Linked DNA regions of Homo sapiens. The protein of the gene in region 2 interacts with the protein of the main gene of each other region in a pairwise test. Each region holds a gene or a part of one and is shown on either strand. Other genes may lie near its edges.

Region 1 (15,182 bases), on a different chromosome or scaffold from region 2:
CTCCTTCCTTAAAATATCTCAGGTCCACCATGACCACCACCACCTTAGTTTAGGTCTCAGAATTTTGGACTGAACTGACTCATATTTATCCACAAGTCCAGTCCATGTGGGAAGACTTAGCCCACTGCCTGGCACCTACAGTGTTCACTAAACAACTGTTTGAATGGCTCTCTTTTCTTGGGTAAAACAAAAATCTCTATCTCACAAGGATGTAGAATATGTGCACTGAACCTGGAACCAGGTGAGTATTTATAACATATTTGGTAGGGAAACACAGTGCTTATTCCTCTTCCTGCATTTCCCTGGAGTATAAGACTGACCACCTAGTATAACTCAATACTTGTGGAACTTAAATCAACCAGAGAAAATGTCTCCAGATTACGAATGTTCTTCTGGTAGAAAGAGTACACACAACTTCTGTCCCTAAGGAGCTTATAAGACAAAGCAGGTAGGCACACTAGAAAGAGAATTGGTCTTGGTGTCAAAGACCCCAATCTGAATTCTGCTTTCTGGATGTGCTTTTAAAAATAAAAACTGGTGTGCTCTTGAACAGCAAAACACCACATAAAAAGCAACTTGCCTGGGACAATTTTTTATTTCTGCTTATGAACCAGAACTCTGAAGCACTCTGTAGCACATACTATTTAGCTGTAAAAATTGGTGGTTGTTGAACATGAGAAATCACATTAGACTGAACCCTCAATGGTTAACATCCCAGTAGAATCCGCAACAGATGACAGCAGGCAATTTCCAATCTTTGCTCCAATGTATATCAGCAAAACATGTCAAAACCTAAATTAAAAGTTTTCACTCACTTTTTTCAAGAAAATAAATCCTTTTGTTGGCAGTTTCCCACTGATGACACGCAACAATCTTTGCATATGAAATCGGCTAGTCCTCTGCTTCACTGCTAACTTTGTAGAAGTTCCAAAGCATTTCTGGAGCAAATGATCTATTTGGACTAACAATGCCAAGCTGGGACCTGAGCCCTGAATGAGCTAAAATTACCAAAGCAATAAGAACATGGCTTTGGAAGCTATTTCCCCCAAGTGTGGGGTTTCTTCTAGCTAGTTGAGGGAGTGATAAAGAATGTTGACTTCTTCCAGATGAACAAAGTTGAATGAAAACTTAAAATCCTACGGCAGGTTTCTGTTCTGAAAAACAAGCTGCTGCTGCAGAGGTTCCTATCTCCCCTATTTCCCTCTCCTCAAGCACAAAAATGCACCTGTCTTCCCAAAGTTGATGAGTTCAACATGGGCACACCAGTGCAGACTATATGCTGGGCACTGAGGATGCAGGCACAAGGAAGCCAGGCCCCTGTCCTAGAGGAGTTCCCTGTCAGGCAGGAAGAGAGGCACATTCATGACTAATAAAAACAAGACATAAAATGCTACAATCCATAAGCAAGGCAAAACCAAAGTGAAAAGAGAGTTCTGAGGAGGGAGAGAGTCTCTCTTGGGCGCAGAGGGAGGAATAGGGACTACCACTGAAGCAAGGTCTCCAAATGTACTTTGTCCACTCCTTTATCACAGGTGGAGGGGGGCTGGACCACAAACTTCTGTCACATGTCTACCTTCCCCACCTGTAGGTGAGCTCCTTGCAGGCAGAGGCCCCATATCAGACAATGATTAATCCACCTTGGCTGGCTCAAAGGAGTGCGAGAGAGTGTGTTCACAGAAGAGTAAAAAATACCATAGGTCTCAGGGAAAGGGGAAGAGAGAGTGAGGCTGGAGAAGTAAGGTGGGGCTGGGATAGAGCTGGTCTAAGGAGGGCTATGAATGCCAGGCTAAGAAACTAAAACTTTTTTCAGTAGGCAATAGGGAGCTACAGAAGGTTCTAATGAGAGCAGTCAACTAAGACTGTGTTTTAGAAGATTATTCTAAAAGCAATTGGGAAAATAGATCAGAGACATGGTAATCAATTAGAAGACTGCTTCAATAGTTTAGATAAGAGCTGATGCTGACCTGAATGCAGGCAGTGATGGTGGAGCTGGAAAAGAAAAACTTAAAAGATAAACTGCAAAGCCCACCTTGAATTGGTCCATTCTCTGTGTTTCCCCAGTGCCTGGCTTCTACCTTTATTTAGCACTTACTTTGAGGCCCCCAAATTACACACTCCCTGAGGATGATACCCATTTCTTTTCCATCACTCCCTCCCCCACAGAAATCCTACATAGCAGGACATGAAAAGTCAACGCCTGCCACCCCTGGGTCGTGCTGTCATTTCAATCACAGTACCTGAGATGCATAGGTGCACTGGTATATTCACTTAATACAGCACTGGGCCTGGCATACAGAAAGCAGTAAGGAGACATCTGAAACAAAAAAATTCAGCACACTCAAACAACAGTAACAGAGCACAGGTGCCTAGATAGAACAACTTAAAATTTTAGGGCTCTAGGCACAGAGAAACCAGTTTGAGCCTCCTAAAAAAAAAATAAAATTCAACACTATGAGCCCCAGTAGCAGGCTGGATTGCAGTTAGATGATGGTGAGCTCTCCAAATGAGTAGTTCTCACTTTCACAACCTGCTTGGCAAATAAATGAGAGTAAAGAGAGAACAGAGGTCAAAGGTGAGTCAAACTTTGAGTTATGTGGACCCTCCAAGAGGGACAGCCTTAGTGAAGATTTATTCAAGCAAATGCCAACTGAAGAGATAGGCGGGTGGGGGACAGCTGTGTGTGCTCTGTAAGAGGGAGGATGGTAATGGAGAAAGAGCAGAATGGGCTTGAAAACTCAGAAACTAAAATTATACTCTGGCTTGAAAACTTGCCTTGAGCTGTAAGCTTCATGGACAGTTTTTCCATTTCCTTTCACTCCTTCCAAATCATGCTGTGTAGCTGATGGGAACATCGGCTACTTTACAAAGGAGACTGCCAAGTGGGGGCCTGGCACTGGAAGACCTGTGTTCCAATTCCAGCCTTGCCATTTATTAGCTGTGTGGCTGTAGGCAAGTCTCTGAGCTTCGGTGTCCTCATCTATGAAATGGAAATACTAACCACAGCAATACCTACCAAAATGTCACTTAGAGGACTAACAGAGATAATGTGTAGGCATATAGCAAGACTATCAGGAAAGAAGGAGTTTTGTTTTTCCTTGAACTGGGATTGTAATTTGATAAGTAGTGGTATAAACCACCTACTATGGGCAGTAAAATGTAAAGTCCCACAGCAGTCGGCTTTGACATTTCCTGAGTATAAAAAGAAGTATACTTCAAGACAGCTCTGGGCTGGCTTGGGCCAACACTCAGTATAGCAACATACTTCTCACCAAAAGCCAGAAAGCTGTGCTGAAACTACCTTGGAAACCATTCTATTTGTGTCAGAGAGATTAATTAATCAATTAATAGCTAATCCACAAACATAAAGCCACCTCTGCTTCCCACTTGAGGGGATTCCTCCTCACACCTGGTGCCATAGCACAGTGGTATTTACATATAGGAGATGCCAGATGAGCTCTCTGAAGTCACTGTAAGCAATTCTCAGAGCCACCAAGTTTAAGTCAGGAAGGGGTTTGAAGATACATAGGAGTTATTCCAGGGTAATGAATTCCCGAACTCACCCTGGCCCTTCGATCAGGTCTCTATGCAGGGCAGTGGGTACCCAGGAGATCAAAATTCAAAATGTGGTTTGGCCAACTTCAAGTTGTTGTCTTTTTTTCCCCTTTCTCCTCCCAAGAAAAAAACTGAAGAGAGGTAAGGGGAAGTGTTTTTCAACTAATTCAAACTGGCACACTTCTTTGAACCTACTCTGCCAGTTTCCAAATGATGCTTGGGTTTTTTAAATAACCATACAGATTTATCAACATTCTAACTTGGAGGATGAACAGTCTACAGGTTCAAAATTCATGGTTCTCAAACCAACAGCTACATGTATCTTGCTTCTGAGGACTTGTGTCGATTTCAAAATCAGAGCTGGTGGGAGCTGCCATCTGCCTAAGTGGCCTCTCTGCAGTGCCTGAAGAGTCAAGCACAGTGTATATGTATGTTTGCTGAATGAATGAGTAGATGAATGAAACAATCTCCAAGAGAGGAAAACAGCCATTACACACTAAGAAACTTATCACTGACTCTCTTTAACACATCACTTCTACTCTCCTAGGACCCTTCCAGATCTAGGAGTACAATACAATCGTCAAGAAGCATGCATGCATTTTCTTCTAGCAAAAGGGAAGCTAAGGTTACAACCTAGTTATAACTTCCTCAAGCCTATCGTCTTGGGAAATAAATTCCTAATCCTTTCCCTCAGGTAATTAAAGGCAAGTAAGCAAACAAAATAAAACCTAATCAGCTATGAATGGTTCCCTTTTCTAAAATCTGCTTCCCCTCCCTCAGTTTCTTTGGCCCTAGGTGTCTGGCAGTGGGTGGGCCTACACTTCGGTGTGCCAGGGCTTATCAGGGAGGTGGTATGGATAGAGCCTGTCAAAAAGGGTCCAAGTGCTGCTGGTCAGTTTCCAGTTCTTCCACTCTTCAACTTCTGCAAACCGATTTTTCAGAGGCAACATGAGTTGTGAGACTGAGCTAACTTGCCATGAGACCCTGGGCAAGTCTCTATGGGTTGAGAGAATGTTGGGTTCATCTTTTAGGCTAAATGTGAGGAAGCAAAGGAACTTGAAAAAAATAGAGAAGGTCTCAAAATTACAAAACATCTTCATTCAGTCACTAACCCTTCGTGTTCTTTCTGGTAGAAGGCAGGAACACTATTTGCCCACTTTAAGGTTCATTCTCCTTACCAGCAGGAGCTAAAAAGGCTGCTCCCCAAAACGGAGATGATACTTCCCCCTTCCTTGCTTGTCTAGACTCAAACTTTCTGGAACTAGCTGGGAAAGAGGGCCAGCTGTCTTCTCTTTACAAAGGAAAAGGTGTCTCAGCATGGCAGGAAGAACTGGAGCATAGGAGGATAAAGGGCTGGTTTCTTTCCCTATCACCAACTGAACCTCAGTACCCTCATCTACGAAATGGAGATGAGACTAGCTGCCTTAGCCCATCTCTCAGGGCCCTGGCAGGGCAGGGATGAGAGGTCCAGTGTTATTCTGACCCAGAAACTCTCTCCTGGCCCTCAACTCTCTCATTCAGGGAGCCTTCTGGGAGATTCAGAAAGGGGTGTGGAGGCTGAGGGATGCCTTAGGGCCTCTACCTCCTTACCTCTGCCACCTGGCCAGGGAGGGGCAGGAGAGTGTGGTGTGGAGCCCAGTGCACTGAGGTTCATGGCCTCCTCATCCTGTCCAATGTTGGCCCGGATGGGACAAGGATGTCATAGCTTCCCTCTGTGAGGAGGGACTCCCACCTAGAAGATCTGACAATATCCTTCTTGCTCCTCACTCCAAGGAGGTACCAACAGCCTTTAAAGGGAGAGAGACAGACAGCTTGAGAAACTTAATTCTTGACAGAAAAGAACAGAGGGAAGGAACTGGGAGAGAGGTAAAGAGAAGGTGAGAGAGAAATGACGGTACAAACAGGTAGGGAGAAAAATGGAAAGTGAAGGAACGAAGAAAACACAAAGAATCAGAAAGAGGAGGACAGACACAGATGAAGAGATGAAGACGGACTGACAGCGCGGGAGCTTCGGGGAAGCGGGGAAGACAAAGGGGACCATCCGGTCTTTTTAACTGGCCTGGCCTCTTAGAGACACCCCGTTCCCAAATGAAATGCCCAGAGGACGGGAGAAGGAGGCAGGAAGGAGCAAGCAGTGGCTCCCCCCGGTCCCCTCCGCCCGGGCCCCCGGCCCCTCCCGGGGTCCCAGCCCCCGCCCGGGTCCCACCGTCCCTCCCCGCCCGCTTGCTCACCTGCCAGCGCCAGGATCTGGGCCTTGTGGAGCAACAGCGCGCCCCAGTCGCGGGGGGCGCGCGGGGGGCTCTCGGGCCCGGCGCCCAATTCCTCCGGGCCCCGGTACACGGCGTACACCTTCTGGTTGTCAAAATCCAGCCGCGAGCGGGGGCTGAAGTCGCGCACGCACGACACGGGCAGCGCGTAGCAGACGTTGTCCTCCAGGAACCGCACAAAGGCGTACATGGTGGGCGCCGGGGGCGGGCCCCGGTCGGGCAGCTCAGCCCGCGGGGCGGGCGCGGAGGTGGGGATCCGGCGGGGGGCGCGAGTCTCGCTACGGTGCTGGGGGGGGCGGGGGCGGCTCCCCAGGACCCAGGCTCCCCCCACTGTTATTGTTCCTGAAAGCACCGTTCTGCCAATCGGCTGCTTTCGCCTGGGCGCGGAAAAGGGAGGGAGGGGGGGAAAGGGGGACGAGGGGCGGATGAGGGGGGTTTGGAAGCGCACTGCCACTTGCAAAGTCAGACCCGAGCAATCACAGCCGGAGCGCGATTCGAATGGGGAGGGAAAAGGGTTCAGAGATTCAGTTGCAATAAAAATAATAACAAGAGCATTGCAGGAAAAAAATGCATTGATTAAAAGGTGCGCTGCGTGCAGGATTATATTGCTTCAACAATCGCGCTGCCAAATTGCATTGCAACAAAACTGCATTGCCAAGTAGAGAAGTGTATGAGTGAGTGAATGCGGGATAGGGGTGGGGGCAATCTTGATTGAATCTCAAAGTGTAAACTTGGAAGCCAGCAGAAGTTTGGAGTGTTTTAAATGTAGCCACCCTACCCGCGCCCCCAGCCCCGCACCCTCCCCGCGCCTTTCCCAGCCCTTAGTTTGGCCCCGCCTTTTCTTTGCTTTCTTTCTTTTTGTTTGTTTGTTTGTTTGTTTTGTTCTGCAAAACTGCCAGCTCCCTCTGTGGAAAGGGTCAGTCAGACAGAAAATTTCCCCTAGAGCTGCCAAACCAGTTCTGACCAGAACTGGGGCTTATCTGAGATTTCCAGTTGTGCCAGCTGGCTGGGGAGGTGGAAGGTTTGTCAAGGGCTGCTCTCATCTGAGGGAGCAGTGGCGCCCCTCTCCTCTATAGTCTTTCTCCATTGAGATACCCTCTCCACAGCACGCCCACCACTGAGCAGGGACAACTTGGAATCGCGGAGGGAGTTGAGGAGCGCTCTGGGTAACACAGGCCCAAGGCTAGGGATTTCTGGAGCACTTTGAAGAGTACAGGAATAGTACTCCATGGAATAGCGGTCTTTGCTCTGTCTCTTGCCAAAGAGAGCCTGGAGGGGCTTGGGTCCCCTCCAAGACAAGCCGTGAGGACCAGCCAAAGGGGGCTGATTGGGCTCTGTACTCATAGGAACCCTATCCCACATCAGAGGAGGTCAGTACCTTCACAGGGATGCCTCGTATCAAATATGGCTAGTTATATTTCTGTTGCCTAGCCAGACCTGGCACTTGACAGGGAGTTAATGAATTTTGGGTAAAGAAGAATAAATAAAAACCCACATCCATCCATCCATCCATCCATCCATCCATCCATCCATCCATCCAACCATCCATCCATCTGTTCATTCATTCCTTTATTCAAGCAACCAATATTCACTGAGTTTACACCACCTGCCAGATTCTGGGCCAGGTGCTGGTGATAGAAATGAAAAGATAAACACCTGGATTCTTGGGCCTTGCAAAGTCAGTGTACCAGAACTTGAATCTCAGTTTTGGGTTCCTGTGCCAAAATTAGGTAACTGTATGAATAACATACCTTTCCCATCCTCACAACCTTTACAATCTAGTCTAGGAGTATTAAAGAAGTATAAGCAAGTAATGACAGTATAATGAGAAAAGTATTGTCATAGAGGAATGCTTAATGGAGGTGTTGGACTCAATTAAATGTTATATTTTTAAAAATTCATCTTAATAAACTTTAGCTGTAAGAAAAAAACAGAATAAGTGCACCAAAATGTTAATAGTGATTTTTTTAGCTTCTTAGTAGTGGTAGATGATTTTGTTTTTCCTTGTATTCATTGTGTGTGTGTGTGTGTATGTAACTATTTTCCACAATGTTTTATTACTTTATCATCAGAAAACATCAAACATTATAAAATCAAAGCACTGTGCTCATATTTCACATCAGCTGCACTGACAATGAGGCAGATATTTATTTCACTGTGAAATAGACAGTGCGTTATATAAGTGAATCCCATCAACATATAGCTCTCATATCCAAATGTGTAGGTCAGTACAAATTTTTTTAAACCAACCCACTGGTTATGTGGTACAGCCAAAAATGACCACCACTTGTCCTGATGCAGCTGTTGGTCTTATCTTGCCCCACAAGCTTGTGGAAAAAAAAGGAGCCACTCTGAGTTGTTCCAGCACATTTACTGTCATGATTATGATTTCTTTGGACTGATCCTCAGTGAGTTTTTATTTTAAGAATACATTCCTATGGTGGTCAAGGGGAAGTAATGTGCAGCAAGACTTCTGATAATTCACAAGATGGATCATGCAGAGTTGGCCGTATTTAACAAAAGTCCTTGAAGCTCCGGACTATGTTCCCAAAATGATTTCAAGTAGCCAATGGCCAACCTCCTCTCTGCATCTAAATGGGGGTGACCACAAAACATTACCAATCTCATCTCTTACTACCTTCCCAGACACAGTACACTCCAGACACCTAAACTATTTGACATTTCCAAAGATAGCATGTTTTAGCAGGTCCCAAGCTTTTGTGCTTTTTCTGCCTTCATCCTGGGAAGTTCTTCCTTCCTCAACTTACCCTGAAAATCAGCTCAAATGTCATTGCCTTTGTGAAGCCTTTCCCAACCACCCACACTTTTCAAGGATAGCCTATCTCTTTCTACTACAATATTTTGTCCCAGCACTTTTTATCTTCCCTCACTAGAATAAGAGCTCTTTGAGGGGAGGCAAAGGCTGAGTAACTTTAGCATCCCAGGTACCTAGCACAGGGCTGGGGAGTAAATGTTTATAAAACAAATGTATTAAAGAAGGACATAAAGAGAGCATGAATAACAAACCTCTTGCACATTTTTTCTTGAAAGTCTGTTCCTCTCTTTTTTTTTTTTTTTTTTTTTTTCTTGAGACGGAGTTTCGCTCTTGTTGCCCAGGCTGGAGTGCAATGGCCTGGTCTCGGCTCACTGCCACTTCCACCTCCCAGGTTCAAGCGATTCTCCTGCCTCAGCCTCCCAAGTAGCTGGGATTACAGGTGCTCGCCACCACGCCTGGCTAATTTTTGTATTTTTAGTAGAGACGAGTTTTCACCATGTTGGTCAGGCTGGTCTCAAATTCCTGACCTCAGGCAATCCACCCTCCTCGGCCTCCCAATGTGCTGGGATTACAGATGTGAGCCACCGCGCCCGGCCTTTATTATTATTAATATTATTATTATTATTACACTTTAAGCTCTGGTATACATGTGCAAAACATGCAGGTTTGTTACATAGGTATACACATGCCATGATGGTTTGCTGCACTCATCAACTCATCAACTACATTAGGTATTTCTCCTAATGCTATCCCTCCCCTAGTCCCCCAGCCCCCCACCCCCCTACAGGCCCCGGTATGTGATGTTCCCCTCCCCGTATCTATGTGTTCTCATTGTTCACCTCCCACTTATGAGAGAGAATAGGACACAAACAAATGAAAAAACATTCCATGCTCATGGATAGGAAGAATCAATATTGTGAAAATGGTCATATTGCCCAAAGTAATTTATAGATTCAATGCTATCCCCATCAAGCTACCATTAACTTTCTTCACGGAATTAGAAAAAACTACTTTAAATTTCATATGGAACCAAAAAAGAGCCCATGTAGCCAACACAATCCTAAGCAAAAAGAACAAAACTGAGGCATCATGCTACCTGACTTCAAACCATACTAGAAGGCTACAGTAGCCAAAACAGCATAGTACTGGTACCAAAACAGGTATATAGACCAATGGAACAGAACAGAGGCCTCAGAAATAATGCCACACATCTACAACCATCTGATGTTTGACAAACCTGACAAAAACAAGCATTGGGGAAAGGATTCCCTGTTTAATAAATAGTGTTAGGAAAACTAGCTAGCCATATGCACAAAACTAAAACTGGACCCCCTCCTTACACCTTATACAAAAATTAACTCAAGATGGATTGAACACTTAAATGTAAGACCTAAAACCATAAAAACTCTAGAAGAAAACCTAGGTAATACCATTCAGGACATAGGCATGGGCAAAGACTTCATGACTAAAACACTAAAAGCAATGGCGACAAAAGCCAAAATTGACAAATGGGATCTAATTAAACTAAAGAGCTTCTGCATAGTCTGTTCCCCTTTTTAAGGGTTGATGCTGAATCCCAACTCTGCCTTTCCCATTCCCAGTGATCGAAGGGCAGAAGAACATTGATTCTACCACTTGTAAGACAGACACATTCATTAACATATTAAATATCACTGCACCCTGGGGTTCAAATTCCCTACCCATGTCACTGTAAATCATTCCTATAAGGAGGCAGTTCCATTTTCCGATAACCCAGAAAGAGGAAAAGAACAGACGATGGACCCGGATGCTGACAGAGTAAACACAGATCAAAACACATGTTTCATAGATCCACAGAATCGATTCTGGAGTAGTCATGACTGGCACGGGATGCTTAAAGAGATACCCTTGGACGGCACCAGAAAGACGTCAGTTCCTGCTTCCTGTGTGACTCACACATTCAGTCTATGGATACAGCTTAATGGAAAACCTACTATGTGCCATAGGGCGCCTCTTCCACCCTACTGAAAACTGAGCAACAGTACTTTGACCTGGAGACCATAGCCCTGGGCTTTACACATACCAGATACTCAAGATATTGATGATTCATTGACTGGTGAGCAAAGATAGTTTAAATACAGATTTCAGACTTAAAGAGGCAACTGCAAACTTCAAGTTTAACCAAATCATTGTTGAATCCCCTCTTCAATATTTCTGCCAAATGGGCATCTAGAACACCTTTTATACAGTTCTAATGCCAGGAAGCTTACTAGCTCCCCTTAACTTTTATACATTACCAAGTGTTAGAAAGGTCTTTTTTACTTGCACTGAGGTAGAATCTTTAACCTTATAGCAGCCATACTAGGTTCACCAAGACTCTCACGCCTGCCCTTCAGACATGGTGAAACTTGGAATCCTGTCTCCCAGCTCTTTGTCTTCTGCCCAAACATCTTCATTTCCTTCACCTGTCTCTCCTCATATGACCTGGTTTCAGTGATGATAATTGTAATACCTATTTTTTCTCTAAAGCTTATAAATCATGCATGCCAGGCGCTGTGTATACATGATCTCAATTACTTCACACCAAATTCTTCAGGTGGGTGTTATTAAACACATGATAGAGTTGAGAACATGGAGAACTATGGCAAAGCAGTTTGGCTCTGGGGAGCCCTGGAAGGCTTGTGGTTATATTTCAATTTTAGACAGTTTGCTCTAGAAACATTGTGGGGAAGGATTGGAGGGGACGCAAGTCTGGGGAGACAGAGGCCTGCGAAGACGCTGACTGTCCTGTCTCACCCCTCCCCCGACTCTCTTTTTCTGTGGGCCAAATGTGCTTTGCCTTTCATCCAAGTCATTTTAATGGAGCAGAAAATGTACACATCTGGGGCAGCTTTGCAACTGCATCTCCACTCCACTCTCCTGTTGAGTTTTGCAGAGCCTTGGGTTAATGTCAGGCTCCTTTGGTTTAGCCAGCTGAAGCATGTTCAGTGGCAGCAGTGGGACTTATGTTTCATATTACTACATGGAATTCTCAATGTAGTTTGCAAAACTATTTTTAAGGAGACCTGGGTTTTGTAAATTTTTAAAGCAATTGGAGCGTGCCTTTTCAACCTCTCTGCTAATGATTGACCACATTTTTTCATGATTTTGCCTTTTTTCCCTGTGATGTTTGATTAGACTTTTCAAGTCTCTGCTTTTTACATTTTTGAAAGACTTTTTAAATAGTAGTTTTAGGTTCATAGTAAAATTAAGAGGCAAGTACAGAAATTGCCTTCATACCTCCTATCACCCACACAGGTATAGCCTCCTTAATACCAACATCCCCCACCAGAGTGGTATATCTGTTGCAACTGATGAACCTACATTGACACATCATCATCACCCAAAGTCCACAGTTTACATTTGAGTTCACTCTTGGTGTACGTTCTATGACTTTGGACAAAAATATAATGGCATGTATCCACCATTATGGTATCATACAGACTAACTTCACTGTCTTAAAAATCCTCTGTGTTCCACCTATTTAGCCCACCTCAGCAGCCCCAACCCTTGCAACCACTGATCTTTTTACTGTCTCCATAGTTTTGCCTTTTCCAGAATGTCATATAGTTGGAATCATACACTATGTAGCCTTCTCAGATTGGCTTCTTTTACTTAATAATATGCATTTAAGATTTTTCCATGTTGTCTTATGGCCTTTTACATTTTTTAAATTTTCCTATTTTGCCCAGAAAAGTAATTTGCTGTGCTGCAAGCTGAGGGCCACTGTCTTCTCAGGTTGATTCAAGGAAGGAACGTTGATACATGGCCAGGAGGATCTGGAGCTACTGGGAGGCCTGTAGTGGGCATTATCCTGAGCTGTGTAGTCACACCATAAAGCAGGGGCATCAACCCAACTCATTCATATGCACTCCTGCTCATGAAGTCTGATTGAGTCTGCTTGTGGGATTTTGGGCAGGGGAAGAGAATAGCAATGCAGAGGGGGAAGGAAGCAAAGAGAGGAGCTGCATGTTGGGTACAGGCTTAAAGGCCAATGAACATCACCTGGATAAGTTATCCAGGTGAGACTTAGAGGGAATGTAAACTTGTCATGTAGATGACAGATTGGAGGGCCAAAGAAATGTGGGCTTAGGAATCAAACCAGTGGTTAAAACCTGACTTTGTTACATCTTTGCTGTAACTTTAGGCAAGACAATTCACCTCCATGAGCCTCAGCTTTCTCACCTGTGAAGGTGTTGTGAGACGTGGGCCAGGAATTTTCCACCCTTTCTGTGTATAAGGATCACCTTGGGAATTAAAAAATATTCCATCCCCAGGTCCTATCCCCTGAGACCCTGATTCAATTGGTTTGGGATGGGGCCTAGGCATTGATTTTTTTTGTTGTTTTTTAATTCCCAGAGTCTTCTAACATGAGACGAAGTTGAGCACCTCTGAGTTAGAAGATCTTAAGGTAACATGCCAAGCACACAGGAAATTCTCAACAAGTCATAAATATTATTATTTTCAGGAAAAATATATAGGGATCCTAAATGTCTATCTAACCTTGGGGAAGTCACTTAGCATCTCTGAGTTATGATTTCTTCATCTGAAAAATGACATGCCAATGTAAAAAGAAAACAGTATATTTAGTCTTAGGCTCTGGGTCCAAATCCTGGTCTGATAAGTAACGTCTATTCTTATGGTGTGGCCTTGGGTATGTTTCTTAATCTCTTCAAGCATCATTTTCTTCATAAGAATATTAATTCAACTTCACAGAGATGTTCTGAGGATTAAATGAGATAATCTATGTAAAATGCTTGGCACAGTGCCTGACACTGTGGTGAGTTCTCAGTAAATGATTGCTGCTGTTACTGTTAAAATAATTATTATAGTTATAATTATAAGAACACATATCCCCATTCTGACACAGAGTGGGGGTGTCCAATATATTTTTACTGAATCAAATTGAATATAACAGACTGAACAATGCTAATGATAATCCAACAAGCATCCTAGAATGATTCCCGCCAAATGCTGTCCCCTTCAATAAAACTCTGTGGTCATGGGTCACAGTCACTAAAGAAGCTCTCTAATTTCAAATGTTCAAGAGCCTCTGAGGCCACAGGGCTTGCCCAAACCTGCAGCAAATACTTCTGAAATACTGTGTTTGGGGCCATTCATTCTTTCAAACTGACTTTGTTGAGTATTTTTTTAAGAGAAGAAATAAAAACTTCTATGCATTATATAAAATGTAAAGTGTAGAAGCGTTTACAGCAATCTGAAGCCTTGTGGATGTGCACATTGGCTTGAAGTTCAGTTCAGGCAAACTGCAGTCAAATTCAACCATTCAGATCTCAGCTATCTTATGAGCTCATGTGGGTCACAAATGGAAATCATTGGTCAAACAAATGATCTGAATCCCAGCATTTTACTAGTAGTATAATATACTCTGCATAAGCAACAAAAAGTAAATAGATTCCCTGTGGTTAAAGATGAAAATAAATTTATTAATGTAAAAAATTGTCACAAAGAACCAACATTTGAATTCGTTTTGAAAAAGAAATGAAAAGATTGACCTACCTCGGAAAAATGCAACTCGCTTCTTGAAATTATGAATTTCAATTAGGGGCCAACTAGTTTGAGAAGTTGCCTCTGGTTTCCTTTATTAAATTAACTCATTCTGTAATTTTTCAGGTGAAATGTCACTTCCTCAGGAAAGTCCTCCCTGACTCACTCCTTCCATCCCCCTCCATAGACTAGCTCCAGTCCTTCTTACACACTTCCATGGCTTCTTATAGTTTTCTTCATGGAGTGTATCTTAGTATGTAATTATGTGTTTATTCTATTATGGTCTATCTCTGCCTATAGATCAAAGCTCCATTAGAGAAGTGACCATATCTGTTTTCTTCACTGTTGCATCCTTGTGCCTAACCTGGCACATGAGAAACCCTAAACAGACACTTGTTGAATGAGTGCATGTCTGAAAGGCAGACCCTAAAGAACCCCCCTACCCAGAGATGAGAGGCAACAGGTGTACGAAGGGCCATATTCTGTCCCTCTAAGTCTCATTTTCCTCTCTGTGTTTCTGTGCTTCCACCATGTCTGGCTCCTATCTGACTGGAACATCAATAAAAGCCTATTTCCCATTTTCCCTTAGCAACCACTGGATAGTTAACATTTTCAAAATGTTTTTCCAAATACGAGGAGAGAACAAAATGGAAATAAATAGAAAAATGATGTACACAGAAGAAAAATAGTCAAGTTGACAGTCACACATGGTGGTCATACACTAATCCTAATAATAACATAATAGTAGCAGGAACCTCATTGACACAGTCTCTGGGCCTTCCGGGAAACAAGATGGTGATTCTGCCTTATTCCACAAGGCTAGAGTTCTTTCTTATCCTGTTGTTGTTGGCTGGAAGTCACTGACTCTCTAACCCCCTACTTAGTTAAGGAGAACCCTGCCTCATTCTAGTCTTCTGATGATTCCAACATCATTTTTGAGACAATAGGGCAACCTTCCTTCAGAGACCACATTAGTTCTCTGGTTATCATCTCTGCTCATCCCAAGCACCTGGTGGTTCAAAATGCCTGCCCTTCACAAGTCCTCATAGGGCCAGAGTGTA
Region 2 (15,037 bases):
GCTTGTAATCCCAGCTTCTCAAGAGGCTGAGGCAGGAGAATTGCCTGAACTCGGGAGGTACAGGTTGCAGTGAGCCAAGATCGCACCACTGCACTCCAGCGTGGGCAACAGTGTGAGATTCCGTCTCAAAAAAAAAAATAAAAAAATAAAAAATAAGCTAAGTAATTTAAACATAATTGTTTTAAATTAAAAATGTCTATTTTTGGATCCTTTTGTAATTCATGAGTGTGCTTGGGTGTTCACATCCATGTGTGAGACATGCCACTCTCAAACCTTGTCACAACGTTGGCACATTACCCATGTGACAAGAAAAAAAGTCTTTTTAATTACAGAATTAGAAAACATAGATTTTTAAAGACATTTAATGGTAACTTCTGTTAAAAGGTTGGTCCCGGCTGGGCACAGTGGCTCACGCCTGTAATCCCAGCACTTTTGGAGGCCGAGGTGGGTGGATCACTTGAGGTCAGGAGTTCGAGAACACCCTGGCCAACAGGGCAAAACACTGTCTCTACTGAAAATACAAAAATTATCTGGGCATGGTGGCACATGCCTGTAATCCCAGTTACTCGGGAGGCTGAGGCACGAGAAGTGCTTGAACCTGGGAAGCAGAGGTTGCAGTTAGCTGACATTGTGCCACTGCACTCCAGCCTGGATGACAGATGACCCTGTCTCAAAAAAAAACAAAACAAAACAAACAAAAAAAAGCCAAAAAACCAACCTTGGTCCCTATGCTTTCAGATCTATTTCTACAGCGTAATAATTAATCAAGATAATTCTAGGCCCACAGATGGGCATCCTAATCATCTTGAAGGCACTTCTAATTTCATCTCCCAGCCAAAGTCCTTTAGGGCTGAGGAAAAGCTAAATAAACTAGACCAGTCTACAGGTTCTGAGGGAAGTAGCCACAGCAGAAGCTGCTCCTTCAACACACGCAGGATCAGGTGGCACTCATACTTGCCGCAAGGCAGTTCTCTCTCTCTCAGCAGTCACAAGTTCATCTTTGTCTATGACCTCCTCAGTTTTTAGGGAAGAACAGAAGGGCGAAGAGTGGTCAAGAAGACTATCCCTCCCTGTCTCCAGCTTTTAAGCCATTCTATTACCTAGGAATTACAATTCAGCTCAACAAACAGAATGCTGTGATCCAAGCAGAAAAGCAGGTAGTAAAGATTCAGCAGGTACACATGTTAAGACGTGACTTGCTCCTCCTTGGCCTCTGCCATGATGGTGAGGCCTCTCCAACCACATGGAACGGTAAGTCCATTAGATCTCGTTCTTTCGTAAATTGCCCAGTCTCAGGTATGTCTATCAGTAGCGTGAAAATGGACTAACACACCCCCATCTCTACAAAAAATTAGCCAAGCGTTGGTCGGGCGCGGTGGCTCATGCTTGTAATCCTAGCACTTTGGGAGCCTGAGGCGGGTGGATCACAAGGTCAGGCGATCGAGACCATCCTGGCTAACATGGTGAAACCCCGTCTCTACTAAAAATACAAAAAAAAAAAAAAAATTAGCTGGGCATGGTGGCGGGCGCCTGTAGTCCCAGCTACTCCAGAGGCTGAGGCAGGAGAATGGTGTGGACCTGGGAGGCGGAGCTTGCAGTGAGCGGAGATCGCGCCACTGCACTCCAGCCTGGGTGACAGAGCGAGACTCCGTCTCAAAAAAAAAAAAAAGAAAAAAAAGAAAAGAAAACTTAGCCAAGCGTGGCAGTGGATGCCTGTAGTCCCAGCTGCCTGGGAGACTGAGGTGGGAGGAACACCTGAGCCTGGGAGGTGGAGGCTTCAGTGAGCTGTGATTGAACCACTGCACTCCAGCCTGGGCAACAAAGTGAGACCTTGTCTCAAAACAAAAACAAAAAGAAAACAGAACAAAGAATACTTCTGTCTGGAGGTAAAGAATATCTAAACACAAAGTAGGGTTCCTCCTTCCCTCAAAAGTCACCCTTTAGAAGATGAAGTTAATTTACTTTCAAGGACTTGCAAAATCTCTTCTATTCCAGCATGCTCCCATTTCCTTTATTTTGATAAAGAGCTGTTTCGGGAAGACATCTCTCAGCCCAAAATGACCGTGATTACTGCAATAGGCCCATCCAAATCTAAACTGCAAAACAAGTACTGAGTATTTAATAGAAGTTATCTGGTACGAACAGTTTTTTTAAAAAGGGGCAAAGTAATTTAACATTGATTTAATTTAGTAATTACTGCTGGAGGTACGACCTCATAATAACCATGATTAGGTTAGTTACAAGCAAGCATTTCAAAAGCTACTTTAAAAAGTAACTTCAGCTGGGTGTAGTGGCTCATACCTGTAATCCCATCACTTTGGGAGGCCGAGGTGGGTGGATCACTTGAGGCCAGGAGTTCGAGACCAGCCTGGCCAACATGGAGAAACCCATCTCTACTAAAAATACAAAAATTAGCCGGGCATGGTGGCGCATGCCTGTAATCCAAATTACTCGAGAGGCTGAGAGGCAGGAAAATCACTTGAACACGGGAGGCAGAGGTTGCAGTGAGCCGAGATCACGCCACTGCACTGCAGCCTGGAAGACAGAGCAAGACTCCAACTCAAAAAATAAAAATAAAAAAGTCAATTGGTAAGTGGCCACACTGTGATCATATAAGGCCAACAGATGCTTGTGGCTTCAGATAAAATTTCCAAAGACAGCATAGGACACGGGTTCACAAAGCAGGATCACACGCCATTTACAAGGAAGTGACAGAAAACAGATGCGGCAAAGACTAATCGATGATACTGAAAAGGAATAGCACTTCCAAGTAAATATATTTTGTATGATTTTAAATATATATCTAACCAAAATAGTAAATAACTATAGGTAGACTATTTGATCTATATTTCATAACCTTTTATATTCGAGTTGGCAAAAACAAAAACAAAAAAAAACACCTTTTCTGAGGACCTTTTCATTAATGTTATCTTATTTTCGGGCACTTACAGTATTTCCCCAAGTTCATAAGCAAACACAACATGTCAGTGTTAGTAGACCACTCTCTTTTTATATTTGCATTTATGCCTGTCCCCTGGGGGCATCTAAGCCTGTGACCCTTGGACCCAGCCCACCCAGACAGGAACTCCCCTACTCACCTTCTCTCATCTTTTGATCTAATTCATCCAGTGTTGGCTCAATCAACTCCCAGCCATCTGGGGGTGCTTTCCGGCTTCTTTTGACTTTAGGCATTTTCCTTCCACAGGATAATCTGCAAAGATCTGGGGGAAAAAAATGAATTGGTTTCTGAGTCTCAAATCCCCAAAGGCCTTTGCCAGCCATTATTTCGGTACAGGCTGACTTCCTTGAGTCAGCATAGGGTCACAGCTATGGGACAGGGCTCAGCACCCAGACTGTGTTCAAATCCTGGCTCTGCTACTTACCCGCTGTGATCTTCAGAAAGGTACTTAACCTTCCTAAGCCTCTGTTTCCTCATCTGTAAAATGGGGATAATGGAAGCTACCTTATGTGGTCATTGCAAAGACTTCATTAGAATTGTATCTATCATGCCTGGTGTATAATGTGTGCCTAAGAGACATTTGCTGTTGTCATTAGCTAACTTCAACTAAAAGCTTAACCCTATACTGGATGTTGGGAACACAGAACAAAAGTTAAGCCTTTGCCCCTTAGAAGGTGACATTTTAGCAAAGAGACAGACAAGAGAAAAAGCAATTACAATAGAGTATAAGGAGGGCTGTGACTCGGGGAGCCATGGGGGTGAGTATTTAAAAAGGCAAAGATGGAAGGTCAGGCACGGTGGCTCATGCCTGTAATTCTGGTCTTGGCCAGCACCTTGGGAGGCTGAGATGGGAGGATCACTTGAGCCCAGGAATTTGAGACCAGTCTGAGCAATGAGGTGAAACCCTATCTCTACCAAAAAAAAAAAAAAATCAAAAAAATTAACTGAGCATGGTGGTGGGTGCCTGTGGTCTGAGCTACACGGAAGGCTGAGGCAAGAGGATCACTTGAGCCCAGGAGGTTGAAAGTCTTCAGTTAGCCATGTTCACACTACTGCACTCCAGCCTAAGTGACGGAGTGAGACCATGTCTCAATAACAAACAAAACAAAACAAAACATAAAATAAAAAGGGAAAGATGACTGTAAAATCAAAGTACCTTAGGATGTGCTTTCCAAGAGTATAGACAGCAGAAAGATCTCTCGTCTCTGCAGTTGCAGGCTTGGATTCTTGTTCAGCTCTAAAAAATTATTCTGTGACTTTCAGGTCACCTTCCCTCTCTGGTCCTGTTTCTTCTGTAAAATGAGGGCAGTGGATTGGCTGATTGCCAAGGTCTCTTTCACACCAAACAACATATTACATAAAGTCAGGTAGTTCCCATACAAGAGGCCGATCCCAATCTAAATAGCAAAGCGTTTTTCAAACCACACAGCATTTCCTTGCTGCCAGAGAGAACCCAGGTTAAGTATTTACCTTTCAGCATAACAGATTCATCTCTCTCAAATTCATTCAGTCACTCCCTTCTGTACTGACACTTTACAAAGACCCACCCCCCCCCCGCCCACAGAGCCTCCTCTCATGAACTCTCTAAAACAACCATATAGAGGAGGAATCAAACTCTATAAGGTAGAATCAGGGTCACACAGCTGAGAATTTGCAAAACCTGACTCTGGAGGGCTCCTGACTCCCAAATCAGTGGTCTTCGCACTAGTCTCCCCTACGCTGAAGCTAAAAATAGGTGAATTCTGGTCTCGGCCCCAAGGCGCATAGTCTGTGACAAGAGAATGATCGCTTTTCTACGACCCAGGGAAATTCGAGGGCCCTGATCCAGCCTGGAAGTCAGAAGAGGCCTCTCGGAGGTGAAAATGGTAGGCGGTAACCAGATCGAGGAGAAAGAGGACGTAGGAGGTAATCAGATCGAGAAGAAAGATGTGCCGGGAGGTGTAAGAGAGATTGGGGCGCTAGGGGAAGGAGGCGAGGAGGAGCGAAGGAAGATAGTGCAGGATTGTAGGGAAAACTCATAAAAAGGACAGCATCTGAACCCAGCTTAGAAAAACAATCAGAACACAGAAGACGTTCCTACCAGAGGAAACGGCGCGAGAATCCTAGAGGAAAACCCCCAAATCTACCGTCCCCTCAGAAGAACGAACGTGGCGCCGCCTCCTCTCGGGAGCTCTCTCCGGCCTCAAGGTCCAAAGCCCGAACACATCCCAGTGGCTGGCTGAGAGTCCAGCCACTCATATCTCCCTCCAGGACGGTGCAGACCACCGGTCTCCCGCCTCAGCCGTTGCCAAGGTAATCGAGAACAGAGGGAAAACACATACCGGAAGCTCCTGGAGCTTGGGTAGCTGCTTCTCGACAGAAGGCTTCCGCTCTTCAGGCGATCTCTAAGGCATGAGGTCCTTGCGGAGCCCCGCCCTACCCGCGCGGAGATTGCGTCATCTTAGGTGTCCTCAGCAATGCCTGTATAGAATTCCAGAGCCGCTGTTGCCATTTGCCCTCACTTCCGGTGGGTGGCAGGCAGGGCCACGCGTCTTCCCGAACGGAGAGACTAGGGGCGTTGTTGCCTGGCAGCAGACGGGCAAGCCTGGACTTAGGCGGCGCGCAGGACGGTCCGACTTCGTGCGGAGGCCTCCCTGAGGTCCGGGTCCTTGCGGCCACTGCGGCCACTGAAGCGGCGGCGGCGGCTGGCCCAGGAGGAAGAAGTCGAGCCCAAGCTATTTCCGGTTCCGGTGTCAGTTCGAGGCGCCGCCGCCGCCGCCGCAGCCGCCGGAGCCGCAATGCCTAAAGGAGGTGAGGGGCGGGCGCCGGTGGCCCGCAGGCCTGGAGGGGCGGCCCAGGTCCGGCTTCCGCTGTCCCCTCAGCCCGTGCGCGTCTCTGAGAGCAGCGCAGAGGGAGGCTGTCCGCACCGGCTGAGAGCCAGGCCTGGGCCTCGACGCCCAATTGTCCCGATGGGGAAACTGAGGACTGTGGTGTCCCAGAGTCACTCCGTCAGTGGTCTGAGGAGTTTCGGAAGCTCTGGGTCCTCGCCGGCCTAGAAAGCCGGATCTAGGATGCGCTTCTCCGGGTCTAGGGGTTCTGGAATTTATCCCACTCTTTGGCTGGCTAGGAACTGAGTCACCGCGTCCCGCGCTTGTGCCGGGCCCGCCTGCCTCTCGCGTAAAACGTGGGCTTTTTCTGGCTTCGGTTCAGCCAGGCCTGCCTAGGAGGACTTAAGGAGATGCCCATGAGCCTTCCAGACCTGGTTTCGACTCCCCCGTTCGGTAGCGGCTCGGTGTGTTCCTTTGAGCCAGTCGCTCCACCTCCTGTGTCTCCGTTTTCTCATTTGCCAATGGGAATAACGATTGTACCTACCTCTTAGTACTGTTGGGAGGCTTCAACTAGGTAATCCACGTGGAGTGCGCAGTACAGTGCCAGGCAGTCGTTAAAAGTGCCCAGTGAAGCAGTAACTATTCTTATTTTTAAGGCTTTGCCAGCTCTTGATCTTGTAAGTAGGTTCATGACTGCCCAGTCCATTGTAGCCCGTCCTCTATCTTCTAGCCCGTTCTCTATCCTGTTTCCCCCTTTAGAATCGATAGTCCCCAGTTTGAATCCCAGCTATGTCACGTCTAATTCTGTGGCCCTGAACAAGTTAACCTCTTCCTCATCTGAAACACTGGGCTAATCCTTAGCTTGTTGAATTGGGGCCGGGGTGGTAAAATTATAGCGCTCATAAAGTGCCTGGCCACCTCCTGGCACAGAACAAATATATTTGTGTTGGTAGCTCATGTGTTATATTGGTTAATGCACTCAACCCACAGAAACATCTGCCTGTAGCGTTTTCAAACCTAAATCGCTTCCTGACTCCAGAGATAATTGGGCATTACAGAGCTAAATGTGTTTAAACCTAGCTCTCTACTGATTTATTCTGTGGCTGGAAAAGTCTCTCTGCTATTGTTCCCCAGTCCCTTCATCTGTAAAAGGAGGTTGCTGAATGAGCCATCCTCCCTCCGAAGTTTTACTTAATGGATACTTTGGGTAAAGGTTGGAGGTTACAACGATAAAACCTTAAATATGAATTCATAGCTAAATGGTCTTTGGGCTTGTGAAAAGCTTTTTGGGGTAGACAAGGTTTACATTTTCTTGGGTTAATCTGAAAACCACAAAAAACCGTGAAGGTGTTAAAAGTATCAAACTCCCTAAGAGCAAAGGACCAACGCTTGTTTCCATTATGTTAAGTGCAAATCGTTTTTTAAAGTCTTGAAGAGTCTACTATAAAATTACTGTGGACCAAGCTAAGGTCAGGGTCCCATAGCCAAGTGCATGAGAGGAGAGCCTATAGTAATCAATTTTGAGTTGTTACTGTTGCCTGGTGTATTAAGAGAGCAAGAAAGGGTGTTGGTTTTTTTCTTGGCACACTTGCTCTCTCACAATAGGACTTTAATAAGCATAGACTTAGACACCCCTGGGAACCTAGGTAGTCATTAAAAATGGGTGGTGTGATCTTTAGCAGCCCAATTATGGCTTTGCAGCTGCTGTAAGGAATCAGAGGAGGCCAGTATCTCTGCTACCGCCTCTGGAGTGCAGAGCAACTCTGGCTGATTACAGAGTCTCTGCTCACAGAGACAGACTATGGAAATCAGGTGGGCCTCAGCTTCCTGTGTGGAAGTTGAGGCCACAGCCACCCTTGCATACTTGGGGACCAGCAGAGGGGGATGCCACCTTGCTTTAAAACTGGCTGATGGCTTAAGCAAGGGTCAGCCTGGTGTTCTGGCTGAAGAGGGTCAGACTATAAAACTGACACTTTAACTGCTAGTCACATTTTTAACTTTTAGACTGTGTAGTCAGGTTTGTTTTCATCTGTACTTTGCCAGTCATTTCTTAGTCTAAGCACAAAGTTTTTGCCTGTAGGTTTGGGTTTCTTTTTTTTCCCTTAAGTATTCTCTTTTTGCCATACTACTAAGGTGAACACAAGGTATTTTATTGTGTTTCCAACATCTGCAGTAAATTGCTTATGTGCTCAGTGGTGCTTTTGTTGTTGTTTTTCCACCAAATACTAGATTAGAGGGAAAAGTAACGAACAGCGATTTTTTTATTTTTTTGAGACGGAGTCTCGCTCTGTGGCCCAGGCTGGAGTGCAGTGGCTCAATCTCGGCTACTGCAACCTCTGCCTCCTGGGTTCAAGCGATTCTCCTTTCTCAGCCTCCCAAGTAGCTGGGATTACAAACATGTGACACCATGCCCAGCTAATTTTTGTATTTTTAGTAGTGAGGGGGTTTCACCATGTTGACCAGGCTGGTCTTGAACTGGCCTCAAGTGATCTGCCCGCCTTGGCCTCCCAAAGTGCTGGGATTACAGGCATCAGCCACTGTGCCTGGATATTAGCGAACATTTTTGTAGTGCTTATTCAGTAGCAGGCACTGTTCCAGCAGCTTTCTGTATATTGATTAATTCATCTATCTTTGTGACAACCCTGTAAGGTAGGGACACAGATGAGGAAACTGAGACTGAGAGGTTAAATACCTGCCCAAAGTCATCAAGCCAGTAAGCGTAGAACCTGGGAGTTGGACTCTAAACTTCGTGGTGTTTCGCAGTCTGCTTTGGTCTAAGTCTCCTGGTCTATGAAATGGGACCAGCTATCACCCCTGTACCATAGGTTTGTTCCGAGGATCAACTGTGCCCCTGGCTGGCTGGGCGCGGTGGCTCACACCTGTAATCCCAGCACTTTGGGAGGCTGAGGTGGGCAGATCACGAGGTCAAGAGATCAAGACCATTCTAGCCAACCAACATGGTTAAACCCCATCTCTACTAAAAATAAATAAATAAGCTGGGCATAGTGGTGCACGCCTGTAGTCCCAGCTACTCGGGAGGCTGAGGCAGGAGAATCACTTCAACCAGGGTGGTGGAGGTTGCGGTGAGCCGAGATTGCGCCACTGCACTCCAGCTTGGGTGACAGAGCGAGACTCCGTCTCAAAAAAAAAAAAAAAAAAGTGCCCCTGGCTGTGACAGAACATCGTGTAAAAAGCCCTTATAGTGACGGCAGGGATGTAAGTGGTACATGTTTCTGTGGTTGCATCTGAGTCCACTATGCTTGGATTGTAAGGGACCAGGGGATGTAGCAAGTCATTGCAGTGCACCGTCCGCCATGTTCTCCCCTCCGGTCTTCTGTGTAGGAGCCAGCATTTAGTACACAGTTTGGTGATGCATCAGATGGTCACGAGTTGCTTCCTGCGTGCCTTTGAACACATGAGGGTGGCGGAGGTGTCGGTTTGGGTGGTGCTGGGTGAGGGGTAGGTGAGGCCTCCGATGAGAGTACTCCAAGCAGGACACAGCCCTCTGGGGGTCAGAGCAGTCAAGGCAGCTGCTTCCGCTCACCTAAACTGCGGGTCTCTGCAGGAAGAAAGGGAGGCCACAAAGGCCGGGCGAGGCAGTATACAAGCCCTGAGGAGATCGACGCGCAGCTGCAGGCTGAGAAGCAGAAGGCCAGGGTGAGTACGTGCCTGTCCAGGCCACGCCAGTGGCCCAGGGTGGCGCTTTGCCAATTTGGTTCATAGAGAGGCCAGGCAAGGACTACCCATTCGCAGGGACAAGCCAGCACGTGGGGGTCGGGCGGGCAGTGAGCCCCAGGTGTGAGTCTCAGAACAACCAATGACAGTCAGGGCGTGGGCATCCTCTGCCTGGATGGGTTAGAAAGAACTGTGGCTGCTCTGCAGCAGCTGCTTTAGTGGGGCCCTGTTCTTGGTCTTGTGCACCTACTTTCAGGAGGATCTCCCTCCTGCAGGACCTGTCCATTCACAGCTCGAGCTCCCAGCACCCCTGCTTGTCTGCTGCAGCCACACAGGATGATTTGCCACACTGCACATGACATATGCCCTGCCTTCCCACACCCCCAGCATCAGCATGCTCTCCATCCCTGGAGACGTTGTTTAGCCTCTCCTCCTCTGTGACTCATGCCTCACCTCCAGCCAGAGCTGATTTAGTAGTTCCCTCTCCTCTGCTCCCATAGTACATTGTCCAGGCCACCGTTAGGAAATAGAATACATTCCCATCGTCAGCATCTGCATCTTACCATATCATTAGATTGATGCCTGGATCAAGGGCCTAAGGGAGCAGTCAGGGCCAGATGGGTACACAGCTGTGACGTACCCCAGGAGTCTCAAGAAGGGAAAGGCCACATCCAGCTGTGGGGTCTGGGAGGGGTCCTTGGGGGAGCCAGCAGCTGAGCAGGACATGGAGAATGTGTGGGCAGGTGCCAAGAGGTGAAGGGACATGAGGTTCCTATAAGGGACATTTTTGGTGGGAAGGCAAGAAAGGTGGAGGGAAGCAGCCTTCCGAGGTGTTGTTCTGGGGAGCTGGTGCAGGAGGTCACCTGTGTGGGTGGGTCGGGGGGATGACTTGCCATGGAGTGGGAGTGGAGTGCGGAGAGGACTCGCCTGGGAATGCCAGCATGATTTGGCAGCTGCATGTGGCAGGTGGGAGCTGAGTAGGATGGTGGTTTTCAGCCTGGTGGCTGAGTCCTTCTGACCCCAGGAAACAAGCTTCTCACCCTGGCTGCTGAGGTGGCTGCGTTAGGAAGGGGAGCAGGGCCTTCTGTGGCTGTGTGAGGGGCTTCCTGGACTATGGGAATGGCCTCTAAGCTGTGGTGCTAAGTGCATAGGCTGCCTGTGTCTGGCCCAGGTCCCATTCCCTGGGGGCCAGGGTCACAGTAGGACCCTTGTCATCCTTGGTTCCAGCCTTCCAGAGGCTTGATTTCTCAAGATCCACAGTCTGGGGGGTGATAGGGTCACAGTCTTGGGGATTTGTTTTGCATTTTTGATTCTGCAGGTTGTCCATTTCTGAAACAGGAAGAAGAGGAGCAAAAAGAAGGTGGAGATGGGGCTGCAGGTGACCCCAAAAAGGAGAAGAAATCTCTAGACTCAGATGAGAGTGAGGATGAAGAAGATGACTACCAGGTACTGAGTTCTTTTGAGGGCCTAGAGCCTGGACTCATTCATTCAACAAACAAACGTTGAGTGACCGTTTAGTACTAGTCCCAAAGGTAGATGCAGACAACGTCCTTGCTCTTGAGGGTTTACACTACGGGAGATACAACAAAGAAGTAAACAGACAGTGTCATTTCAAGTAATGAGAAGTGTTACTAACAAAACAGACTGTGATTGAGGGGACTTGGAAAAGTGTTGTGGTGGTGAAGCAACTTATAAACTGAGATCTGAAAAAACAAGATGCAGCCAGCTATGTGAAAATTGGCGTGCAGAGCAATTGAGAAACTGGATTAGCAAGTGCAAAGGTCCTGTGGTGGGAATAAGCTTGGCATGTTCAAGGACCAGAAGGGGGCCAGTGTAGCTGTGAGTTAGTGGGTAAGGAGCGGAGTGGTCCAGATGCAGGAGGAGAATTGGCAAGGGCACCTCCTGTGTAGCTGTTGAAGGGGTTGGCATTTCTTTTCTTTTCTTTTCTTTTTTTTTTTTTTTTTTGAGATGAAGTGTCGCTTTGTCACTGAGGCTGGAGTGCAGTGGCACGATCTCAGCTCACTGCAACTTCCGCCTCCCAGGTTCAAGCGCTTCTGCCCCAGCCTCCTGAGTAGCTGGGACTACAGGCGCCTGCCACCACGCCGGGCTAATTTTTTGTATTTTTAGTAGAGACAGGGTTTCACTGTGTTAGCCAGAATGGTCTCCATCTCCTGACCTCGTGATCCACCCGCATCAGCCTCCCAAAGTACTGGGATTATAAGCGTGAGCCACTAGCCCAGCCCCCTTTTTTTTTTTTTTTTTTTTTTTTTGAGACAGGGTCTCGTTCTGTCACCCAGGCTGGAGTGGAGTGAAGCTGCAGTGAAGCACCGCAGCCTCAGCCTTCCAAGTAGCTGGGACCAAAGGCACACGCCACCACATCTACCTAATTTTTAAATTTTTTGTAGAGATAGGGATCTCACTATATTGCCCAGGTGGTCTCCAACTCCTGGGCTCAAGTAATCCTCCCACTTCACCCTCCTGAGGTGTTGAGATTGCAGCAGCATGAGCCACCATGCCTGGCATGGGGTTTCTTTATGGTAGGTAGTGGCAGCTGGGGGAGGCCTTGAAGGGATTGAGAGACATGACCAGATATGCTTTTTTTTTTTTTTTTTTTTGGGAGATGGAGTCTCTCTGTCGCCCAGGCTGGAGTGCAGTGGTGCGATCTCGGCTCACTGCAAGCTCCGCCTCCCGGGTTCAGGCCATTCTTCTGCCTCAGCCTTCCGAATAGCTGGGACTACCGTAGAGGTAGCGTTTCACCATGTCAGCCAGGATGGTCTCAATCTCCTGACCTCGTGATCTGCCTGCCTTGGCCTCTCAAAGGGCTGGGATTACAGGCGTGAGCCACTGCGCCCAGCCTCCAGATATGCTTTTAAAAGATTATTTTACTTTGGGAAGCCAAGGTGGGTGGATCACAAGGTCAGGAGATCGAGACCATCCTGGCTAACACAGTGAAACCCCGTCTCTACTAAAAATACAAAAATTAGCCAGGTGTGGTGGCAGGCGCCTGTAGTCCCAGCTACTTGGGAGGCTGAGGCAGGAGAATGGCGTGAACCCGGGAGGCGGAGTGCAGTGAGCCAAGACTATGCCACTGCACTCCAGCCTGGGCGACAGAGTGAGACTCCGTCTCAAAAAAAAAAAAAAAAGATTATTTTAGCTTCTTCATGGAGAGTGAATGATAGGATGTTGAGAGTAAGAGCAGTGTTCAGATCAGAAATCCTGGGCCGGGTGTGGTGGCTCACACCTGTAATCCCAGCACTTTGGGAGGCCAAGGCGGGCGGATCACCTGAGGTCGAGATTTCGAGACCAGCCTGACCAACATGGAGAAAACCTGTCTCTACTAAAAATACAAAATTAGTCGGGGGTGGTGGTTCATGCCTGTAATCCCAAATACTCAGGCTGAGGCAGGAGAATTGCTTGAACCCAGGAGACCGAGGTTGTGGTGAGCCGAGATTGTGCCATTGCCCTCCAGCCTGGGCAAGAAGAGGGAAACTCTGTCTCAAAAGAAAAAAAATCGTGGCTTGCCCTAGGATGGTGACAATGGCAGTGGAGAAGAGTGGACAAATTTAAGCTGTATTTGGGGGTTGCTGAAGGAACGACGAATCAAGGATATGCTTAGGATTGCAGGGAGGGTCCGGTTGGGTAAAGGATGAATCTCGAGTTCTGTCTTGGACATGTTAAGTTTACAGTGCCAGGCATCTGAGTGGAGGTGTAAGTGTGCAGCTGGACTGGAAGTGTGTGGAGGGAGCTCTGTGGAGTGGAAGCTGTCTCCCTGCCCCCTTAAGGAGAATTGATGGAATTGACAGGGCCTGAAACTTTGACCAAACCTGCTGCATTGAGAACACACCCCCTTCTTCTGGAACTTCTGCAGGGGAGGTGGAAGGTGCAGATTCCAGGTTTTTGGGCCAGCGTCCCAAACCTGTAGAGTGTGTGATCCAGTAGCTTATTCTTGGGTTACAAGTCCAGTCCATCAGCTAAGGTGGGTGGGAATTGGAATTAGTCATGACAGCACACACTTGGCCCACCCTGCCCTGGGGATTCCAGCCCAGCGCTTTTTGCAAGAAGAATCAGGCATGGGATTCCATGGAAAACTGCTTTTGGAAGCCGAGCTTGAAGTAGGGGAGTAGTGCTGTGTGAGTGCTTGCAAGTCGGGGTAGGGCGCACCTCTCATCTACCACCTACTTCCTGGTTGACTTGGGCAAGTTATTCGACCCCGAGCAGCCGTTCTGTGGGCTCTTCCCAGGCTGATGAAGATGCTCCAGAGAGCTATACCCACTGTGAGACTTGGGCTGAGCACTACGTGGGCTGGGGTGGAGCAGGAGTTTGTCCTCATCCAGATGGGCTGTTGAGAGATGGCAGGAGTGGCCCTCAGGGGCTCCACAGGACCTGAACTCCAACAACCAGCTTCTTGCCCTGTTCTAGCAAAAGCGCAAAGGCGTTGAAGGGCTCATCGACATCGAGAACCCCAACCGGGTGGCACAGACAACCAAAAAGGTCACACAACTGGATCTGGACGGGCCAAAGGAGCTTTCGAGGAGAGAACGGTAACATCACTGGCTGGGCCTTGTGTCACGGGGAATACAGGCCAGCAGTTGGCCTGTGGGATGCTAAGGTCCCCAGCTGGCTGGGAGCTGTGGCTGTTTATTTCTGTCTCATTCCCCAATGGCCCTCCAGTAGCCTTTAAAAAGCCACACAGAATTTGTTTTCACCAATTGATACATGATATCAGGGGAAATAGGACAACAGGCTCAGACCTGAGCATAACACTTGAGGTAATGGTGCAGGATACAGAGGGTTGCCCTCCATTCCCCTCTTCCAGAGCACCACACCCTGGGGAGACTTCCCTTACCCCACTGATCTGACCATTCCTGACCTGCATCCATCTGTAATGTCGTGGCCATGGGGACTGGAAGGGGGCTGCGAGCCTGTGCCGGCCAGAAGGCAGTCCAGCCCAGCGCAGCTCAGCCAGCTGTCCCAGGCCTCTGCAAGTCCTGTGTGAAAATGAAGCTGTAAATATCTTCCTCAAGAGTCGTATGAGGATCAAGATCATGTACTGAAGTGCCTGGCACAGGATCAGTCCTTGACTGGTGCCCTGACTTTTGGCAGCCACCAGGTGACCTCAAGGGCCTTACAAGAGGTTGAAGCCTGCTAGTTTCTCTCCTGACTGGGAATTTAGGATAATGGCTGAGGGGTGTGTCTGTGAAAGCCTCGTGGGGAAGGCCATGAGCTTGGGTGTGATTGCAGCTGCTAAGGACCCTTCTGTCCCCCTTCAGTAGCTTCCTCTTGGCATTGACTTCAAAAACCCAGCAACCTGGGTGTTCTGCCACTGTGGTATTCTGCCATTGGCAGCTGTGCAGCCTTCGATAAGGCTGTGCCTTTCTGGGCATCAGTGTCCTCTCCAGTAAAAGGGATCCTGTTGCTCCCTCCTTCTGTCCTTTGGGGTTGCAGAGACACCCTGCCTGGCATTTTGCTTTCACTGAAGGGCCCTGCAGAGTCTTTGGGCTGCCTTAGTCATCATTCCTGAGGCTCAGCTTAGAGGCTTCTGAGTGTGGCACATCCCTCCTGAGCTAGGATCTGCGGTTCGCCAGGTATTATCTCC

What was found.
Region 1: the proteins of BUD31 (region 2) and BEND5 interact in binary tests that used the Homo sapiens proteins (3 or more experiments, as listed by UniProt).

Annotation. Positions count from the first base shown.
Region 1 is NC_000001.11:48,770,823-48,786,004, forward strand, and holds the start of BEND5 (BEN domain-containing protein 5), read right to left. Parts: upstream 6,070-15,182; 5' UTR 6,010-6,069; coding exon 5,784-6,009; intron 5,340-5,783; exon of another isoform or gene 5,207-5,339; coding exon of another isoform or gene 5,143-5,206; intron 5,109-5,142; exon of another isoform or gene 2,238-5,108; intron 1-2,237. UniProt on the Homo sapiens protein: Acts as a transcriptional repressor.
Region 2 is NC_000007.14:99,399,248-99,414,284, reverse strand, and holds the start of BUD31 (protein BUD31 homolog), read right to left. Parts: upstream 5,317-15,037; 5' UTR 5,040-5,316; exon of another isoform or gene 5,021-5,039; intron 4,252-5,020; 5' UTR 4,116-4,251; intron 3,222-4,115; 5' UTR 3,193-3,221; coding exon 3,099-3,192; intron 2,341-3,098; exon of another isoform or gene 2,302-2,340; intron 2,097-2,301; exon of another isoform or gene 1,990-2,096; intron 308-1,989; exon of another isoform or gene 207-307; intron 1-206. Other genes in the region: PDAP1 (28 kDa heat- and acid-stable phosphoprotein), read left to right, coding at 5,737-5,749, 9,332-9,423, 10,780-10,887, 13,861-13,982. UniProt on the Homo sapiens protein: Involved in the pre-mRNA splicing process. May play a role as regulator of AR transcriptional activity; may increase AR transcriptional activity.